3 separate regions of the Homo sapiens genome follow, and all the other regions are linked to region 2. The links come from fine-mapping of genetic effects on gene expression. A gene starts in region 2. Each other region holds a variant in brackets. All regions are shown on one strand. Distances are between the middles of the regions.

Region 1 (7,412 bases), 310 kb before region 2:
CTGGCTGCATGGTTGCTAATGTGGAGATCTGTCTCTGCTATGGGCAATTCTGTCCCAGGACACTGGCAAGCAAGGGGCCCCCAGGACTGGGCTCCAGTGTTATATTTCAGACTGCCTGGCAGCATGCCATAACATTTTTTAAATTTTTAGATATTATCCAGTTGGGAGGCCCAGAGCTCCCTCTTCAAGAACTTCCCCATCATTTCCCCCCGCTGTGGCCCCTGAAGTTCTCCAGGGAGAACCCCAGAAGTCTCATTCACACCTGGGCTGTGTACTTCACCCAGCATCCCTTGTCAGTATGCACAGAGCCTGCTTAGTTCTGGCAGTGCTGAAGCCAGATTGAGAACCACAGCAGAAAAGGCTGAGAGGCTGAGTCCTGAGTTGGTAGCTGGTGGGGAGGTGGGGGGGCGGGGGAGGGGTCTTGAGCATGCCTGTATGTTTGCTCATCTGTAAGAGTAATTAAAATCCTTCCTTTGCAGGGTGATTGTGAACATCTGGTGAGAGAATGGATGTGAAGGTCTTTTTAGCAACATTAGAACACTACAAAAATCACACATCTGAGTGAGTATGGACTCATACCTGGACTTGGGGGGTAAATGCAGAAATAGCTCTTGAGGGCTTGCAGTCTTAAGAAATGGCCTGGAGGGGAAAGGTTCTAATGCTTCTGAAGACCCAGCACCTTCATCCTTAGATATTGCTGCTCCTTCTGGCTGGGCAGGCCAAGTGCAGACTGCACTGTGGCAACCTGGAAGGGCAGCATCTACCTGACCAGGGAAGGAGGAGGCCCTGTTGGGCTTTCCAGCCTCAGAATTGAGACCTCCTCATCATCAGTCACCTAATGAAGATCCCCTGAGTGCCAGGCACTCGGTGACAACACTGAGCAGTAACCCTGAAGCAATGCCAAGCTTGAGTACCCTTTTTGAGACAGAGTCCTACTCTGTCACCCAGGCTGCAGTACAGTGGCACAATCTTGGCTCACTGCAGCTTCTGCCTCCTGAGTTCAAGAGATTCTCCTGCCTCACCCTCCCAAGTAGCTGGGATTACAGGCACCCGCCACCATGTCCCACTAATTTTTTGTATTTTTAGTAGAGATGGGGTTTTACCATGTTAGCCAGGCTGGTCTTGAACTCCTGACCTCATGTGATCCACCCACCTCAGCCTCCCAAAGTGCTGGGATTACATGCGTGAGCCACCGCACCCCAGCTGAGAGTCCCCTTTCAGAAAGGCCTTTGCTTTTAGGTGCAAACACTTCTGAGGCTCAACAGGTCTGAAGTAACCATGGTCTTCGGTTTACTTCTACCTATACATTGCTGGACAGCTCTTCTTCTACTGGCCCGATTTTGCTATTGGAGCATAATTTCCCATGATAAAGTTGAAGGAAATGACCAGCTTCTCTGCCTGATGTGTCTGAATCCTTAGTCTGATTCTAGAACACACCTTGCCATACATGCCATTTCCCCTGACAAAAATAATGTTTACATTGTAGGGTCCCTAGGGGCAGACAGAGATCACTGAGCAGCAGCTAGAAAGTAACTAGGACTTTGGAGCTCCTCCAGTGACCCACATTCTGCGTGAGGCCCACTGGGTTCTCACCAGCATCCCCCCGAGGTGGGCATGTCAGCTGTGAAAGACCAAAAAGCACATGGGAAATGTGAAGAACTGAAGTCCTCTGCCTTGGGGTCATGCAGATCAGACTTGCCTTGGCCTGACTGTTGTTAGTGGAAGGTATAGGAAAAAAGTCTACAAATCAGTCGGAACTGCAGTACAGAGTTTCGTAATTTATGTATTCAAATTTCTTTCCAGATGATTTAATGGAGGGAGAAACAGATAGCTTCCCTGTCGTCTTTACTGGCAATCTGCATGCTGAGAAAGCTCAGCTGTCAGAGAAGAGGCAATGCTTTTCTGGAGAACGCTTCCAGGCAACATGCGTGAACACACGTGCCCCACATAGCTCAGCTTCCCTGCCACCAAAGTGTAGTGATGCTTCCAGGAGGGACAAAACCAAACCAGAGACAGAAATGCATACAGAATTATTTTATTTAACTTAAACCATGTAGTACTTTACTAGAAAAAAGCAGAGTAAGAGAAACTAACGTTGCCTTAGCTTCAGCCATTCAAAATAGACAGTTTCTTTTTTCCATTATGTAAAGAATCCAGAGTATATCGCAATAACAGGAATAAATTCTTACAACAGAATATACAAAAACATTTTGAAATTTTTTTCATCTACTGATTTTTTATATAAACAGGATTTTTTAGGAATAATTTATACACAGAAAGTCATTTTATGTAACAAATTGGCCATGTTATTACCTTTTTTTTTCTTACTTAAAAAAATTTTTTTTTAACAAGAAAACTCAGAAAATGCATTATTTGCGGTGCATCCATTCCATCCCGCCTTCTGGTTTGATTTTTTTTATCCCAGACAAAGGGATACCCAGAGGTAGACAAACTCTGGCAAACCTCTCACCTCAACCTCACTGGCTTAGAAAGCAGACAGGTGTTTTCACCGGGCGTCTCTTCCACCGGTGGATGTGTGTGTGCAACGCCAAACATCCAAATGAAAAGTTGAAAACAAAACCCAAATAGTTTCCAGATCTTTCTCCTATGTAGCGCAAAAACCCCAGGTGTTTCCCATGATAGAGATATTGTGGAGTTGGGGAGACATGGCCAACAATCCACTGGAGTTAGAGGAAGTGGAGTCAACTTTAAAACCAATTTTTGTGTATGTTATAGTTTTTATTAAAAATTCTTTTCTGTATTGGAAATACGTATCTTCGGGGTTCTGCCTTAAATAAAATAGGGTCTCTTCTGTGTTCTAACAAAGCAGTAATCAGTCATGATACGAGGCATGTAAGCAAATGGCCTGTGTGCCCCATAGCTGTCATCGTTTATGTGATCACTGTGTATGCTGTAATCATCATGAAAACCATTGGCTGTGCAGTCAAGTCTTCCCATGTCCATGGCACTGTGCTGACAATGACGGCAGCCAGACCAATCAAGCCAGATGCCGAACGGTGCCATGCACTGCTGGGCTCCAACACCTCGGCTGTTTCCATGGCCAATGAGGTTCTTTCCATCTGTTAAAGTAGCTACACTCCAAAGGGAAATGACCAGTAAAAAATGATCCCCTTCCCAACCAGAGGGTTCTGGAAGACCAAGATACTGAAGATACAGAACTACTTTTTAAATCATCATCATTCCTTTGTTATAAACTAGGGCAAAAAGCATGGGGGGAAAAGAGGGTGAACCACGGATGGGGTCAGGGAGAAATCCTTTTTTGGCATATTGTAAAGCTAGCTAGTAAACAGGTGTCCTAAAAAAAAAAAAAAAAAATGGATCACAAACACACATTTGCACACACAGAGAAAAAAAAAGTGTCTTTAAATTATTTTCGGCAATTATAAACTACAAACATTTTATAAAATTATTCTGTTCTTACAAAAATGCAATGAAACATTTAATTAGTTCTTGTAAACCAGATCTTCGTCAACTGACTACCCGTAATCTACTGGACTTAAGAGCCCTATTGAAAACGCTAATGAGTGACTAGTTAAAACAATGTTGACCAGAAAGATGCGGACACACACACGTGGGACATAAAAATGAGTGATCGTTATGTTCTCGCAGAAACAAAACGCTAAAGTCATGCCCCAGAACTGACAACTGACGAGTGCGATGTAGTTTGTGTTCTTGAACAATTCGCCTTAACTCCGAGATCAGTTTCCAGAGTAGGATGTTAGGTTTCTTTGTTGAAACCAAATGCCCACGGATGACTGCTGAGCCTCGATGTGGTCTGATAGCTTCAAGAACAATCAAGTTCAAAACCTTGCCCACATTCCTTCCAAGCCCTGCACCCTGCTGCTCGTAACTCTTCTCTGTGCCAGGATCCCTGTGACAATGGTTCTGTACCCACCACCCGGTCATTCCACCATCAAGGAGCACTCACTTCTCCAAATGACGCAACCAGTCATCTAAGATGAAGGCCAAAAATGAAACCCTCTGACCTGTCCAAGGTCTGTATCTTCAGCATCTCTGGCAACAGAGGTTCAGTCTAAATAACATCCTCTCTTGAAGTTCTCATTTGTACCACCAGCTACTTCAGAGTGAAGAAAGAAAGTGTCTTTCGCCACTGGTTCTTAAGGAGTGGATCTCTGGTCCACATCTCCCAATGCTGCTTAGCCCAGGAAATGAAGACAGCTGACAACACAGAGGAACATTAACGAAAAGAACAAACCCCAAACTTGAAATGCATAACTGGGACTGCTGGAATGGGCCAAGGCATACCACGGCGGGTCACTGTCACCAGGAGGGCGCCTGTGTTTTAGAAGGGAGTGGCCAACACCGTCTGGCCA[C/A]CCTGGAAGGAGCCAACGTGACAGCTAAGAACACTAGACAAGCATCCTAGCCTTCTCACCCATCGATCTCAGTGTGATCTTGCCACAGAGCCACTGGCAAGCCATTCGGCTGCCAGCCTGCAGAGGTGGACTGCTGTGGGAAAAGCTTCAGTGGAACAAACTGGCCTAGAATCTGGTGCCAGAGAATAGTTGGCTCATAAATCTTTTATCCCAAAGCACCCCAATGTGCACCGAGCATCTCGCCATTTGGTAGTTCCACAGTGACTGCTCTTCTATTTTACGAAGCCACTTTTCGTACCATTGAAATGTGACTCCGCATCTTAAGAAACAGGCCAGGAGAGGCCAGGTCGGCCACGAACACGGTCTTCCATCTTCCAAGGAGGAGGCTCGTTCCAAAGGTATGTCAAACGTCATGACATCCCACGAAGGAGACCTGGGGTGGTCTGGGTCTTGATCAAGTTCAACAGTGTCTCCAGTACACACCAGCTCCTGCTGCCTCAGGGAAGGGCTGTGTGGGAGAACGTCTTAATGCTCACATCAATTCCATGATGTGCCTCAGTGGTTCATATGACTTCAAGCAGTGTGAGCTGCTGGCAGAAGGAGGTTGCATGGAAAATGCCACAACTCAGCTTAAGATTATTTGGAACACACAGAGAAAAATCAAGAGGCAGAGAAATCAGCATGAAGTTAGGCTAGAACTGTGGATAGATGATGCCTTGGTATAGTCAAGGTGGGTGGGTTGGTCCAGTAAAGTGACTGCACCATCACACAAGCCAAGTTTTCTCTTTTATTGAGGTGTTTCTGAAGCATTTGCTATGATGGGCACTACACTGTTAGTGTTTTCTACTTAAAAGCTACCTACATAAAACAAAAACAAAATGACATCAGTAACTCGGACAGTTTAAACAAAACCCTTATAACCAGCTGAATGATCTGTAGAAATCCAGTTGTGGAAACCGGTAGGTATGTGCACGAGAGGAGAGGCCGTTATTCCAAGGGGTCACCTACAGTGTGGAAGAACAAAACCCTGATCCAACAGTATTTCTCAATGACCTTAAGATCCCCGGGGTCCTGGGAGAGATGGGTCGCGTTCCAGCAGGAGGCTCCTGAGCGCCTTCACTTAGGCTGGAATTGCCGAGGAGCCATCCACGCTTAGGCAAAGCTGCCCGCCACACTTCCCAGCGAAATCATCAGTGCCTGTAAGAGCAGCTGCTGGAAGAGGGGAGCGAGCCGTCTGTCCTGTGAGCAGCAGGACCAGGGAGACGGAGGTACAGCCCTGGCGGGGGGGGCGTGACGCCACGAGCCTCGGCGCCGGCCACTGGGCTTTCCAGCCGGAAGGTTTGGTACATCTCTGTCTACCCCTAGGGAAGGAGGTGAGGGAGAAGTTGAGAGGGCAGCCTGGAGGGGGAGGGGACTCTGCTCCTGCGTGTGTTCTATCAGGGACTGGCTGTGAGGTCAGGAGCCTCTGCATTCTGGCGCACAGGCTGGGTGACTCTTGCTCTCCAGCTGCTGCTGCAGCTGCACCTTTGTGCTCAATGAATGCAGCAGCCATGGCCGCACGGTCCTGCCTCAGCGCGAGCCTCCTGCAGGGATGGAGCAGCAGCAAGGGGAGCAAACCCAATGCCCCACGCCTTTACCCTGGGGATTCGCACAGAGATGGTGCTGCCTGGACACCTTCCTCTCCTCAGAACCTGAGGAACCACTGCTCTCTTAAGGACGAAATGTGTTGGTCATTCCATCTGCACAGAAGCAGTTTGTTCCAAAGACAACCAGCCAGGGACAGCCTGGTGGCTCCCCCAGGTGTGCTCTGGTGCCCTCGTTGGCCTCACAGGGCCACCTGGCTAGGAGGAGGAGAAATCTAACACCTTGGTGGAAACCAAGATAGAAAACAAAACAAAAAAAGCAACACAAAACAGGACATCTCAGAAAAAGGCAAGCTGTCTGAAATGAGCAGAGAGGTGAGTTAGTGTTGCTTTGACCCCGGAATACAGCCTGGCTTCCCCCTGCATCACCTGGGTGTGGCGCCTGTGGCGTGGATGAGGTTACCAGTATCAACGGCCTATTGTCAGGTGCTGAGAAAGGTGAGATGTATTCTTTTGTCTATATACACATATAAAAAATAAGAGTGAGGTAGATAAATGTTTGGGGGAAAAAAAACCCAAAAAATCAAGAACTGTCCCATCACTCTCACACACACACACCCCACACATACACACACACACACCCTTTCCTTGAAATTTAAATTCATAATGGGGCTTTTCTACAGTGATTGAAACTGGTAATTTATCACAAAATAAATTAAAAGAAAACTCCTACATATAATACCTTTTTTTTTTTTTTAAAGGGAACACGCTATGGGATAGAGACTAGAGAAAGCAGTGGGACAAACTGCTGACCAGCAAAAAAGCCGTATAAACTTTCTTTTCTGTGTTGAATCTTCAGTCACAACTAGCAATCACCGTATCCCAGCTTTGTTCTTACTCCTAAACATTTCTATCCCAGAAGCAACTCTTGTGCTGTCATCTCTCTGGTGAGAAGTGCTAAAAATGAAACAAGACAAGACCCCTGGGCCCCAAGGACCTGGATTCCTGGCCGAGGGAAAGTGGGCCAGCACCACAGCCCTGGTCCCCCAGCAAGAAGCAAAGGGGCTCTTGGGCCACCGTGGCGTCTGTGCTGCCTCCACCTAGCACTCCAGCGGGCACAGCCCTGAGGGTGCCGCCCTGGGCCAGCCTGGATCCCGGGGTCCCACTCAACGCCAGTGCGAAGGAGTTCCCTTGGGATGTTCTGGTTCCAAAGACAGGTCAGTCGGTCCGGTGAGGGGGGTGGCGAGGGCCACAACAGGCCCTGCCGGACCACGCTCTGCTGCTCCCTTGGACTCAGCAGCTGTTTTTCGTGGGATGGAAGGATTAAATAGCCATTAAGAAAAATAGTAATCCAAATGCCTAGTGTCTGCGGTTAACACTGCTGTTGTACCCAAGAATTAAAAAAATATATATATATGTGTGTCACAACCTAAGCAAAGGCAAGGGAAAGAGAGGGTGAGGCTTCTCAACCACG
Region 2 (6,533 bases):
TGCCTCCTCCTTCCCCGCCTCACTCGTGAAGGCTCAGTCGTGATTTTTTCAAAGTTAATCGGCACCACCTGCATACCCTCGGCAACCATTACTCACCAACACGCCCTCACCGTTCCCAGTCCCAGTTCTGCGACATTTAAACTTTTAATCGTGTTCAAATTACCCTACCATCTTGAATGTACCAGTAAGCCACACTTTCAACTTTTTCAGAAGAATAAAACCCCCACCTCCTCCGGCCGTAGACACCGGGGGGAGTTCTCGCTCCCCGCATCCCCGCGCTTCCCTACTAACCCCCACCCGACACCACCAAAACAAAAGCTATCAGATTGCAAAAGACAGCGAATGTGGAGCGACACTGCTTATTAACTACGTACAAAGGAAGTGCGGGGCGGCAGAAGAGAGGGCGACACGACGCCGACCACAACAAAACCAAGGCCAGGGCTCCGCGCTCGCAAAACACAACACCCTCCCCGCGCCGCCGCAGACCCTGGCGCTGAAACCACAGCGTACGACACCTCTCGCCAGGGACGGGCGTCTAGGTGTCCCCGTGAGGCGGCGACTACACCCCGCGCTGCGAGCACGTGTGTCGGAATGCACGTCGGCTCCGACCACACACCCACCAACGCACACTCGGATGCGGCCCTAGTACCCCTCCATCCCCCGGCCCGGGAGAAACTGGGAGACCATCCCAGAGCCCTCTGAACTGGGGACCCAGTGGCGCTCCCCGGAAGAGACAAGCTGAGGAAGACTCCCGGCCTCGCACTTCCCGGGGGGCTGCCCAGAGAGCGCTTCCCCTCACCCCACCGCCCAGCCCCGGGACGCCGGGGGCAGGTAACCCAACGAGGAGCGGGCCAAAGTGACGGGCAAGGCCAGGAACCCGAGGAGCCCGAGGGGCAAAAGCACGTTGGGCGACGGGAGGCAGCGACGGGCGCTTGGAGACGTGTCCTGGGGCTTCGGGGCCTCTCCGCAGGGCACCTCCCCCCTCGAGGGCAACTCGCACCCCGCGGGCCGGGCGGCTGCCCGCTCCCCACTGCCCGGTCAGCCCCAGCAGCGGAGACGCGGTGCGGCCCAGGGTGCTGTCGCTGCTGCCTGCGCGCCGCAGGGGATCAGCGCTGTGTGCGGAGAGGCTCTTGCGCATGGAAGGGGCGAGGTGCGGGTCGCGGGGCCCGGGAACCGCGGAGCCCGCCCCGGCACCAACTTCCCTACCGAGTCCTCGCGCCTAGCCGGGAAACACGGCTGGGCTGTCAGGACGGAGAAAGAGAAAAGCCCTTCCCGCGCGGGGATGCGCGGAGCCAGGGCCCGCGGGGCTCCAGACGAACGAGCCCGGGTCCCGGGTCCGCTGCAGCCTCCCTCCCGGCAGAGCCGCCCTGCGCCCCACCCCGCCGCTCCCGAGCCCGGGGGCCCGACAGCTGCGACGGTGGCAACTCGGGTTTCGCAAACAGGGCGCAGCCCCTCGGAGGAAAAGTTCCCGCAGTGGCCGCGGGCGGCGGGCACATACTCACTTTCTCCACTCGTCGGCCAGAGCGAGAGCGCGGCGGAGAGAAACAGGAGCCCCCACAGCGAGGTCGGGGACCCTCCTCCGGAGCCAGACTTCATTCCTTTTATTTGGGATGAAATTCCCCTTTCTCAAAAAAAAAAAAAAAAAAAAAAAAGAAAAGAAAAGAAAAAAAGGAAATGAAAGGAAACAAGTCTCAAACTCAGTCTTCGCTCCCCCTCCAAAAACAAGGGCGAAGGAAACAATACTCCGAAGGCGGCGCCGCCGGGGCCCTCCGGGTGCGCGGACGGGGCGGGCGGCGCGGGGCGGCCCCTCAGCGCCGGCAGCAGCGGCCCAGGGCTCGGCGGAGTCGGGAACCCGAGGCGCGCCGGGGCGGGCTGTCGGCGTCGTCGGCCTCCATTTTCAAACCCGGAGAGGCAGGAAGGGGGGAAAACTGCAAAGAAAGGGGGCAAAGCCCAAATCTGCCTAGGCGAGGAAAAACAAGCCCGGCCCTGGCCGCGCGGGAGGCGGCCGGACGCCCGAGCTTCCGCCGCGGGAGGGCGCGACGCAGTTCGCAAGATCGCCCCGAAGTCCGGGTCACAGGCGAGGCCGGCGAGGGGCAGAAACGCGGAGTCAAAATGAATGAGCGGCTCCCCCTCCTCCTCCTCCTCCTGGCTCCGCTCGCCGCCGCCTCCTCCCTCAGCGCCGCCGCCGCCGCGGCGAGCTCCTTCCCAAATCCAGGACACACACAAAGCGGCGGGCCGGCCGCGCCGCGCTCAGCACTCCCGCCGCGCCGCCCGGCTCTGCGCCGCCGCCCGCCCCGCGCCGGCCCCCGCCCGGCCCCCGCCCGCCGCCGCCTGCTCTGCGCGGGGGCTCCGGCTCGCTGAAGGTCACAGCCGAGGCGAGGCGCGCCGTGGAGCTGCCCCCGCGCGGGAGGGGCGTGGAGGGCGCGGGGGGATCCGGGGAGCGGGGCCGAGGGTCTGCGAGCGCCGGCCGTGGGCAGGCTCGCTGGCGGCGTCCCTCTCGCTCTCCCGCCTCTCTCGAGTTCGCCTGGTGCGCTCGCTCCTCCTCGGGTTTTTTCCCTTTTTTTTTCCGCTCAGCGGAGTTAATGCTGGTAAACAAGAGCCCCAGCCTCGCCGCGCCGCCGCCGCCGCTGCCACACACTGGGGGCTCGCGCGCGCGCGCGCGCCCTGGCCCGCGCACACGCGCCCGCTCGCACACTCGAGCGGCCACCGCCGCAGCAGCGGCGCGCCGAGGGCCCGGCCCAGGCCGGCGCGCGCAAAAAACCGGAGCCCGGTTCCCCAAGACGTGCGGAGCGGAGCCCGGGCGTGGGGCGCGAGACTGCGAGGCGCCGCCCCCATCTCCCGCCCCACCGCCTCCCGCGCGCACACAGAGACACGCGCGCGTGCCCACCCGCTCCCGCCCCCACCGCACTGCGCCGGCCACCCCGCACGCGCCCTCCCCTCCCGCCCGACTCCAAAAACAATGCCCCCGCCGCCGGTCCGGTCTCGGCGGGGCAGGGGTGGGTAGCCAGGGAAAGGCTAGGCAGGGGAGGGGTGGGCAGGAGAGGGGAGGGGTGGGCGGGGAGTGCGGGGCTGGGAGAGGTTCATTGAAAACAACAACAGCGCGGCTGGAAAGCGCGTTTCCCCGGTTCTTGAAAAGCTTCATTGTTTCTTGCAGCTGTTGCAAAATAAATAAATGCGTGCATGCGGCATTTTTTTCGCTGCGTACTGGAAAGCCCGAACGTGGCGGAAGGGGCGCACCTGGGAGAAAGGGGACCCCCCCCCCAGGCTACTACGCCGGGCACTTTCACGCCAGGCTGGGGTGCCCGCGGCGTTGCGACCGTGGAGCCCGGAGTTTGGGGGCTCAGGGGGAGCGGAGGGGGAAGGGCGCGGCCCGTGTGGCTCGGCCCAGAGTGGCTCGAGGAGAGAGGACCCCGCCGCCCCTCGCGGGCCCCGCGCCCCGGAAGGGGGGCCCAGACAGGCAGCGCCGCGTGCCCCGGGCGCGTCCCCGCGGCGGCCGCCAGAGGGCGCGGCGGGCGCTGGGGAGGGCAGCCCGCGGAGAGTCGCCTCCCTCCCTCCGGGGGAGGAAATGTGGGGGCCCGGGCTGGGGGCCGACTCGGCTGGGTCGCGCTGGCGTGGCCTCCCGGACCAGCCGCCCGCCCTGAGCGCTCTCCGCGGCCTCGCGCAGCTCAGGGCTCCACCACGTGGGCGGCTGCGGGGAGCGGCCGGGGCGCGTGCACGCTGCGGGTCTCCGAAGCTCGGGGGGCGTGTCCGGGTCCCGGGGCGCCGAGGAGGGGGTGGAGGCTGGGGCCGGGAAGCCTCCCTTGGCCGCGGTCCCGACCCGGGAACACGCCGCATGCACTCGGGATCAGCGGCTACTGCGGAAACCCACCCGCACCTGTCTCGGGTCCTCCCAGGCACGTTCCTCTTGCTTCGTTTGCTACGTAAGTGACTGGAAACCAGTACCGACCCTAAGTCTCCGCGGTTGTTTTCTTGAATGTGCAGGAGGAGAGGTTTCCCCAAAGCGAGACTCCCCTAGGACTGCCATCTAATGAATAAATGCTGCGGAGACCAGGTCCTCAAAGAGGGAAACAGCCCAGCAGTGGCAGGAGAGAGGAGTTTGAAATACGTGGACTTTTACAAACAGTGATTGGACCATGTGTCGCCCTTAATGTGGTCCGGTTTCATGACTCAGGCTAATTGATGCCAGTAATAAATTTTTTTAAGATAGCTAATAAAAGAGTTGTGAATTGTCGAGATAAGAAGTGGTTGTCTCAAACAATCGGGTAGGATGGTAGAAGGGACCTGATGTAAAGGAAGGTAGTAGGTTTCTTTTACTCTCTAATTCTAAAATACTTCTGCATTAGAACGTGTATCCATCGTTCGTAAATAATTTTTTAAGAGCTGAAAACAAGTCAAAAGCTATCATAACGGAAACTTAGCCCTTTTTTTCTAAAGTTGTTTCCTAGATCATTTTCCTCCTTGGAAATTTCTAGCTCAATTCAGAGTCAGTTGTATAGAAAGAAAATAAACCTTGTTTTACCTAAGAAAGTTATTCATATGATGGGATGGTTTTGTTTAACTGAAATTCAGCTTGATTTTTAAATAAAGAGTTTCAGTTTTGGATGTTCCTAGATTTAACAGTGAAATAAATTTATTAGAATCTTAAAATGTATTATTTAAAAATTAGGCACTACACATGAAGAATTAAAGTCCAGTCTACTAATTTTTAAATATTTCTTAAGTTCTCTGCATGAGGTTGGTCTTGATTCCTGCAGATCCACTCTGGAGTTAAATGCAAAGGAATATTGATATATAATTTCATTATACTTGATTTCAGAATTTTTAATACATACTTGTAAGACAAAAATTTAGAGCTGATTTTTAAAAGGCTAGTGCTAATATAAAATCTTCAAATACTACCCAATGTATTTTTAGTATTAGTAATAAATATGCCTGTTTATTTGTCCCCAAGAACATAAAGAGGTCTATAGAATTTTTAAATGTATATAGGTTGTTGTAGGGGTTGTAGGATTTGTTTTTGTGTGTTTTTTTTTTACTAAAATGATTTTTATTTGTGAATTTTTTAAATGTTTGTGTTTTCCTGAAGTAGTAGGAAATCAATCGTATTAAGTTATTTTAAACAGTGAAGTGGGAGATGTATCATTATATAGCTTAATATTTAGGGAAAAAAAAGGAACAAAAATTTAGGTTGTCTTTACGCTCTAACTTGACCACATGGACAAAGGAGGTGATTTGTATTTCTTCAATGATTATATTTTACATACACAAGTCAAACTTATTTTTTCAACCTTGAAATAAAATCATGTAGACAAAAATTAATTGGAGTCTTTGCTTTATACCCACATTGACAATGCACCAAACTTTTTATTTTATACCATTTTACTCAGGTATCTTATAGGTTCTCCCTCTTTTGGAGCAGAAACTGATTGCTTGTTTTCATTTTTTAAAAACGCCGTTTACTTGATAACAGTTTCATCTCAAATTATTCTGCTAAATGTACCAGACTCCCCAAAAAATGTAATGTATATCATATACATCAAGTGCAAACGTGAGAAACAGCACAACAATTGACAAGTATCAAGTAATACAGTATATTGTGATGTATTCGCAGAAAGGAATGTTAGCAGCAAAAGTGAATAAACTACAGCCCCACACAACATGGGCAGATCTTTGAAACACACTGAGTAAAAATATACAAATATCAAAAACGCACACAGCGTAACACCATTTTGATAAAGCTCTTAAAAAGCAAGGAAAACTTTAAAAGTTACAGAAAATTTTTTTTGCTTTAAATAATAAAATAATATTTTTCCTTTGTTTTGCTTTTGTTTTAGCAAAAGAATTAATGAAGGATGTGAATTCCTTTGGAGAGGATGAGAAGCCCATAGGCACATGGGTTTCCATTGTAATTTGGAAATGAGTTCACTCTTGGATTGAGTGACGGATTTACAAATTTCCATTTTATAAGTATGCTTAATAACTAACACATGTTCTACATATTTTTGTATGTATAAAACATTAAAGAAGATAAATAAAAATATGGGAGAGATCCATGAAAGAGATCATTCTGGTTTTCCAATGGGAGTCGTTCAGATTTCGAGCTGTCCGTATAAATAACTCAGAAGCATTAAAGATCTACTAAAATAACACAGTTAATCAAGGTCTGATCCTTAAGATATTTCAGAAGAATGTCCACACATCTAATATCGATGCAATTTAAGACAAAAATCAAAAGACAAAAAATTTAAAAGACCTCACTTCACAGGTAATAAGCTTCATTAAGAGTGCATTATGTCAACTGTTTGACAGTTTCTTATAAGGTAAAACATACAACTAACTTACGATCCAGCAAGTCTAGCCCTAGTTATTTACCCAAAAGAAATGAAAATTCCACAAAAATACTTCTATGGGAATGTCAATAGGTGCTTTGTTCATAATAGCAAAAACTAAAACAACCCAAATGTAAATCAAAAGGAGAATGGATAAACAAATCATGATATATCCATTCAATGCAATACTGCTTAGCAGTAAAA
Region 3 (7,412 bases), 100 kb after region 2:
AAAACAAATGAAGTAGAGTGGTAGGCTTTTGAAAGGAGGAGCAGAGAGCTCCGGTGAGTGGAAACCTAGCTTTTATTCACCTTAGGGCCTTGTTAAAACACATTTGCCTTGAGATAAAAGGGTTTCTTTTGGGACGATCCCAAAATGACTTTGCTTGATTCAATTAAGCAAGACCTAACGAAAGAGAATTCCAGCTTAAGATACGCATCATCTCACCAGGTGAGTTGTAAATACATTCTGACCAGGTTTCAGAGGCAAGCTCTTGAAAATTTAATCTATTTAAAAACTGCATATCCTTGCCACAAATTGCTTTGAAGAAGATCGCTGAGCTGATTGCATGCTGAGATAATTATTCTGTATCACCACTTAGGGAACAAGATTTTTTGATAAATACTACAGTGTCAGTCTTTGTTAATGACTTGGGAGGGGAAGGAAAGGATTCGATATAGCTGAGGCTGGTTTTATTTTCTTGCCTCTTTCCCATGAACGCAGGCTGTGGGAAGCAGGTAGAGTCTTGGTTTATGAACTCTGAACGCTATTGAGTAACCTATTCACCTGTCAAATCCCTAATCCCCGCATGAAGGTGTACAGATGGTATTGGAGTAGAACACGAAACTGAGAGGTGAAGCCAGCCGGACTTCTGGGTCGGGTGGCAACTTGGAGAACTTTTATATCTTACAAGAGGATTGTAAAACGCACCAATGGGCGCTCTGTAGCTAGCTAGAGGTTTGTAAAATGCACCGATCAGTGCTCTGTAAAAATGCACCAATAGGCGCTCTGTAGCTAGAGGTTTGTAAAATGGACCAATCAGCACTCTGTAAAATGGACCAATCAGCAGGACATGGGCGGGGACAGATAAGGGAATAAAAGCTGGCTACCCCCCAGCCAGCAGAGGCAACCTGCTTGGGTCCCGTTGCATGTTGTGGGATATCTGTTCTTTTGCTCTTCACATTAAGTCTTGCGGCTGCTCACTGTTTGGGTCTGTGCCATCTGTAAGGGCTGTGACACTCACTGTGAAGGTCTGCGGTTCCATTCTTGAAGGCAGCGAGACCAGGAACCCACCAGAAGGAACAAACCCCAGACACAAAACCAGTCTCCACCTGCGCAGGGCCCTGCCTGTGCCTTACCTGCTTCCCCTCCTGGAGACTCCCACCTGTGAATGGATAGATGGTAGTGTGTTGCTGGGTGCTGATGGGGGAAAGCCCTAGCCTGTACCCCCGTTATGGATAATATGGAAGTCAGGGTTCTCAGGTGCTGGTGAGCCAGGCCTCCCCACATCCTACGTATGACAGCACAGGCTCATTTCTCAGTGCTCTGCCCCACTGAGCCTGGATGTGACCTCAGAGGAGTCCTTAGCACTGTGATTAATCTCTTCATGCTTTTCTTCCTTTTTTTTTTAGACAGGGTCTCTCTCTGTCATCCAGGCTGGAGTACAGTGGCACCACTGTAGCTCACTGCAACCTCCGCCTCCTGAGGTCAAGTGATTCTCCCACCTCAGCCTCCCTAGTAGCTGGACTACAGGCGTACACCATCACACCCAGCTAATTTGTGTATTTTTTGGTAGAGACAGGGTTTCGCCACGTTGCCCAGGCTGATATCCCAACTCCTGGCATCAAGAGATCTGCCTGCCTCAGCCTCCCAAATTGCTGGGATTACAGGCATGAACCACTGTGCCTGGCCTCATTCTTTCAATAACTTAATAAATACTTATTAGGAATCTATTCTATACAAGTCGCTGATAACATAGAAGAAAAGAGAAAGAAAGAAATATAGATGGATGAATGGTGCATAGAAATAATACAAAGCACTAGGACAATGGTTAGTGGTTGGGAGGAGTAACTTTAGATATTGTAGTCAAGGAAAGCCTCTCTGAGGAGGTAACATGAGGAAGAGTTATTTCAAAAGCCAGAGGGGAAAGCCAGGCCCAAACAAAACAACAAAACAGGCCGGGTGCGGTGGTTCACACCTATAATCCCAGCACTTTGGGACGCCCAGGTGGGCAGATCACAAGGTCAGGAGTTTCAGACCAGCCTGGCCAATAAGGTGAAACCCTGTCTCTACTAAAAATACAAAAATTAGCCAGGCATGGTGGCGTGTTCCTGTAGTCCCAGCTACTCAGGAGGCTGAGGCAGGAGAATCACTTGAACCCAGGAGGCAGAGGTTGCAGTGAGCCGAGATCATGCCACTGCACTCCAGCCTGGGTGACAGAGCAAGATTCCATCTCAAAAACAAAAACAACCAAAACAACAACAACAACAACAAAAACTGTGTGTGCAAAGGCCCTGAGGCAGGAATGAACCTAACATGATCAAAAACCTGGCTCAGAACATGGACCCAGTGAACCACTTTGGACACTTGATGGGCATTTGATGGGTTGCCTCCGTGTGATCTCTAATTCTTGATGACTAGGCTGAAGTGGGAGCTGGACTCATAGGTGTGTAGACGGGGGTCTGTAGTCCCATGTGGCTATTCATTCTCACCGAGGCAGCATTTCTGGTGAAGTTATAGCTGGATGGTATTTCATGGTCAACTTTAGTTTTAATGGGAGGTATGTGAGGAAGCAATATAGTATAATGGCTAGAATCAGAAGATCTTGATTGAGATCATAGCTCTTCTTACTGGTTTTCTGACCATGGACAAATAGTTTACATACCTTATACCTCAGTTTTCCCTTGGAAGTAATGATAAAACTATCTGTCTCACGGGGCAAAAAACAAATCACTGAATGGCTAAATCACCAAACAATTCACCAAACTTAGCAATTTACCAAAGCCTTGCATTAAACCAGTTTTTAGATATTTTAAATGAATATGAATATTCTTCAAAATATACGTACTTATTATGTATTTGATATACATTAAGAATATTTAGAAATGTAAAGCATGTTTGTAGCTCATTAATATATTCTTCATGAATATTACAGTTTAATAAAGGGAGTGTTAGAAAATAATCTCTATATGCTTAAATTATTTTTTAGCAATAATCATAACAAAATTAATAACAAAAATAGAAAATAAATGCAAACACTGGAAATTTCCTTATATTGAATCTTTACATAATCTTGTCAATAAAATGAATAAAAATAAGTTATCATGCAAAAAAAGGGAAAAAACTCAATCCAGCTATTCAATCAGTTTTATATTTACTAAAGATTAAACGTTGATATTTTGGTTACAGTCTCATGTAATATTATTTTATGTAAGTGTTCAGTAACTAGTAAGTGAATTTTAATAAAACCAAATTGTGTAAAAGGTAGAGTTTAGTCAATTACTAATGTAACAATTTTTTAAAATTTGTCCTTTAGTTTT[G/T]TTTTGTTTTGTTTTGTTTTGTTTTGAGACAGAGTCTCGCTCTGTTGCCCAGGCTGGAGTGCAGTGGCACTATCTCTGCTCACTGCAAGCTTTGCCTCCCAGGTTCACACCATTCTACTGCCTCAGCCTCCTGAGTAGCTGGGATTACAGGCGCCCACCACCACATCCGGCTAATTTTTTGTATTTCTTAATAGAGATGGGGTTTCACTGTGTTAGCCAGGGTGGTCGCAATCTCCTGACCTCATGATCCGCCTGCCTTGGCCTCCCAAAGTGCTGGGATTACAGGAGTGAGCCACTGTGCCCGGCCTTGTCCTTTAGTTTAAAACCAACAACAATTAGAAGAAAAGAATAAACTTAAGTGTCAAATTTAGTCAAATATTTTATGCATGGACTAAAATTTGCATTCATCAAACAAAAATATTACACCTTGTACTTCTCACTGTTTCACTGTTTCAAATTTTAAAACACAAATCAAAACTCACACAGTTACATAGAGTGAGAGAATTGAGCTACATCAAATTCTGTTTTCTTTCTCCATTATCAGTGTGCTATCAGTGTTTACTTTGATTCTACACTTTAAAGGCAGCAGGCATAAATAGTATCACAGGGCGGGAAATGCTAGCTGAGCCACTCCACATTGTTATAGTAACAAACATCTCAAAAACAAACAAACAAACCCTATTGCTTGGGTTCATCTGTGGAGGACTGGCTGTAATTAGGAATTTTCTGAATTAAGTTACATGTAGAATGATAATGCTTATTAAAGGATAAGTAATTAGAATGTGTTAATTTGAAGCTTACATGCATATCACTCAAACTCAACAGTAGTCCCTGCAATTGTTTAGAACTTAAACCAAAGAATATTTGAGGAGGGGAGGTGACTTTTATCACTGATGTTATTTAGAACTGCCAGGGCATGGCATGGTAAAGAGAAGATCAATTTTTGGTTTGTTTTATTCTTGTTTTTAAATTATTGCCAGTGTACCCCTCCTACCATGCTCTCAGTATCCTACTGCATTTAGTAACCAGTAACACCATTACTCTCTATAATTGTGGTATCTGCTGTAATGGATGTCACAGGGTCCTCTGAGGTAGAGGGTCCAGGTGCACCTAGGAGGACTTCCTTGAAGAAGGGATTTTTTTTTTTTTTTTTTTTAAACAGGGCTCTGTCACCTAGGCTGGAGTGCAGTGGTGCAATCATAGCTCTCTGCAGCCTCAAACTCCTGGGCTCAGGTGATCCTCCCACTTCAGCCTCCTGAGTAGCTGGGACTATAGGTGCATGCCACTAATGCCCAGCTAATTTAATTTAATGGTTTTTTTTTTTGGTAGAGATGGGAGATCTTACTATGTTGCCCAGGCTGATCTTGAACTCCTGGCCTCAAGCAATCCTCCGACCACGGCCTCCTAAGTAGCTAAGACCACAGGTGTGAGCCATTGCATCCGGTTAAGAAGGGATTTTTAAAGAATGATTTAGTATTATTTACATACTATAAAATTCACCTCTTAAAGTTTTGCAGTTCACAGAGTTTTATAACCATCAGTACTATCTAATTTCAGAACATTTTTATCAACCCAGAAAGAAATTCTGTCCCGCTGAGCAGTCATTTTCCAGGACCCCCACCCCAGGCCCTGGCAACCACAGGTGTGCTTTGTGTGAAGAGAGGCTCTTCAGCTGGGACCTGAGGTGTGGACAGAAGTCAACTTGTCAGGTAGTGAGGGAAGGGAGACAACAGCGTGAACAGTATCTAGCAGAGCAGAGGTGAAGGCAAGAAATCAACAGACCTGCGTGGCCAGGGCACAGAATATGAAGGTGAGTGGCTTGAGCATGCCGGGGAAGACCCAGCCCACGGGGACTTTGCTGGTTCTCCTAGTAGCAAGGGGGCCCTGAGGTCTGACGCAGAGCCTTCCCTGCGATACCGGCTCAGAAAACACGGCAGGAACTACCCTGTAAATACACCTTTCATAGTCTTTTAAAACATCATAAGGATTGCTTTATTTTATTTTTATTTTTAGATATTTATTTATTTATTTTTATTTTTGTTTTTTTTGAGACGGAATCTCTCTCTGTTGCCTAGGCTGGAGTGCAGTGGCGCGATCTCTGCTCACTGCAACCTCCACTTCCCGGGCTCCAGCAATTCTCAAGCAAGCCTCCTGAGTAGCTGGGACTACAGGGTGCACTCCACCACGCCTGACGAATTTTTGTATTTTTAATAGAGACGGGATTTCATCATGTTGGCCAGGCTGGTCTCGAATTCCTGCCCTCAAGTGATCCACTCGTCTCGGCCTCCCAAAGGGCTGGGATTACAGGCATGAGACACCGCGCCCGGCTGGATTGCTTTATTTTAAATATTTACAACATAACATCAGAAATAGGAGAGACATATACGTGTGCTCCCGCCGTTGTGGTGTAATCTTACTGTCTTGTAGAAATCTGGCTTGGACGTTTAGACTGCACAAATAGCCATGCTAAACCTGCAAATCAGCTGTAACCGATTTTCTCAGGAATCACCAACCCCAAACTTGGAACTCCTTGTGGAGTTTTGACAGAATGAGGGATGGAACTCAGATTAAAGATCTGGAGGATGGAGCAGACATTCAGAGCAAGTTCTTTCTCATTTGAATTTCTTCCTACTGACTTTTTCTTTTTTAAATTTGATTGCTTGCTTGGTTGTTTTTATTGTTTTGTTTATTTGTTTGTTTGTTTTTAGAAACAAGGTCTTGCTCTGTCGCCCAGCCTGGAGTGCAGTGGTGTGATTACAACTCACTACAGCCTCCGACTCCTGGGCCCAGGTGATCCTCCCCTCTCAGCCTCTCAAGTACCTGGGACTATAGGTTCACCACCTCGCCAGGTTAATTTCTTTATTTTTGTAGAGACGGGGGTCTCACTATTTGATATTGAGGCCAGGCTGGTGTTGAACTCCTGGTCTCAAATGATCCTCCTGCCTCAGCCTCCCAAAGTGCTAGGATTACAGGTGTGAGCCACCATCACCACGCCCAACCCTGTTGTTTTTTTTTTAATTTGAAATTTAATTCATCCACTTGGTTCCTCTGGGAAGACTTTGGATTCCCCTTCGGGACCAGATGCAGACCAAAAGTCTCAGTCCTTGCCCCACCGCTGGCTACTCTGTTCCATCCCACATCCCCATAACCACTTTTATTAGTTTCCTGTGTATTATTCTTGTGTTGTTTATGCAAATACATGCCAACATGAATATGCAATCTTATGTCTCCCTTTTCTTTCAGAAAAGATAGCATACTATTCTAAGACTTGCTTTCCCCCCTGACTATACTATGGAGAATTTTCCTTATTAGGATACAGAACACCCCTCATTCATTTTTTCTGACAGTTGCATAGTGTTACAAGGTTTATTTAACCGCTGTCCCATTGATGGACACTTGAGATGTTTCCAATATTCCTCCTTGTGATAATGTTACGATGATGGATCTTGTTCATGCATAATTTTGTCCATGTGCAGCTGTGACTGAATTCCCAGAGGTGGGATCACCGGGCAACAGTAGTACATTAGCCATTCTGATAAATGTTTAAGTACCAGATTGCCCTCCACAAGAGTGGAACCATTTTGTCTTTCCATGAGCTACGTTTGTCCAGACACCTGTAGGGTGTTCTGAAACTTTCTTCATCAAACATCTTTTATAAATTTAAGAGCCCAGCGTGGGCAACATAATGAGACCCTGTCTTTACCAAACAATTTTAAAAATTAGCTGGGTGTGGTGGTGCACACCTGTAGTCCTATCTACTCAGGAGGCTGAGGCAGGAAGATTGCTTGAGCGCAGGAGTTCGAGGTTACAGTGAGCTGTGATGGAGCCACTGCACTCCAGCCTGGGCATGAAAGCAAGACCCTCTCTCAAAAAAAAAAAAAAAAAAAGTGGCCGGGTACAGTGGTTCATGCCTGTAATCCCAGCACTTTGGGAGGCTGAGGTAGGCGAATCACCTGAGGCTAGGAGTTTGAGACCAGCCTGGCCAACATGGTGAAACCCTGTCTCTACTAAAAATACAAAAAATTAGCCAGGTGTCATGGCGGGCACCTGTAATCCCAGCTACTCGGGAGGTTGAGGTGGCAGAATTGCTTGAACCCAGGAGGT

Which allele goes with the higher level. Positions count from the first base shown, and alleles are read on the strand shown. Sizes are in standard deviations (SD) of each study's normalised expression. Not every link is listed here.
For the expression in monocytes after LPS of the gene that starts at base 2,639 in region 2, allele G in region 3 goes with a lower level than allele T (large effect, 1.0 SD a copy in Quach 2016).

Evidence for each region. PIP is the estimated chance that this variant, and not a neighbour inherited with it, causes the effect. A credible set is the group of variants that fine-mapping cannot tell apart.
Region 1: its variant is the best candidate, but not a certain one, in a credible set for the expression of IGF1R in lung (TOPMed, PIP 0.69).
Region 3: its variant is the best candidate, but not a certain one, in a credible set for the expression of IGF1R in monocytes after LPS (Quach 2016, PIP 0.84).

The regions. Positions count from the first base shown.
Region 1 is chr15:98,959,138-98,966,549 of GRCh38, reverse strand. It overlaps IGF1R (insulin like growth factor 1 receptor), which reads right to left. Exons shown (of 21, transcript NM_000875.5): 21 at 2,020-7,412. Among named protein-coding and RNA genes, the nearest start is that of PGPEP1L, 45 kb to the left of the region's middle. The variant C/A (reference allele first, on the strand shown) is at 4,356.
Region 2 is chr15:98,644,645-98,651,177 of GRCh38, reverse strand. IGF1R (insulin like growth factor 1 receptor) reads right to left here and starts at 2,639. Exons shown (of 21, transcript NM_000875.5): 1 at 1,503-2,639. The coding sequence starts at 1,596. It overlaps IRAIN (IGF1R antisense imprinted non-protein coding RNA), which reads left to right and starts at 391. Exons shown (of 1, transcript NR_126453.2): 1 at 391-5,315. RefSeq lists silencers at 2,615-2,884, 3,255-3,314, 3,375-3,844, 3,855-3,904 and an enhancer at 3,916-4,537.
Region 3 is chr15:98,539,962-98,547,373 of GRCh38, reverse strand. No RefSeq gene overlaps it. Among named protein-coding and RNA genes, the nearest start is that of IGF1R, 100 kb to the left of the region's middle. The variant G/T (reference allele first, on the strand shown) is at 3,309.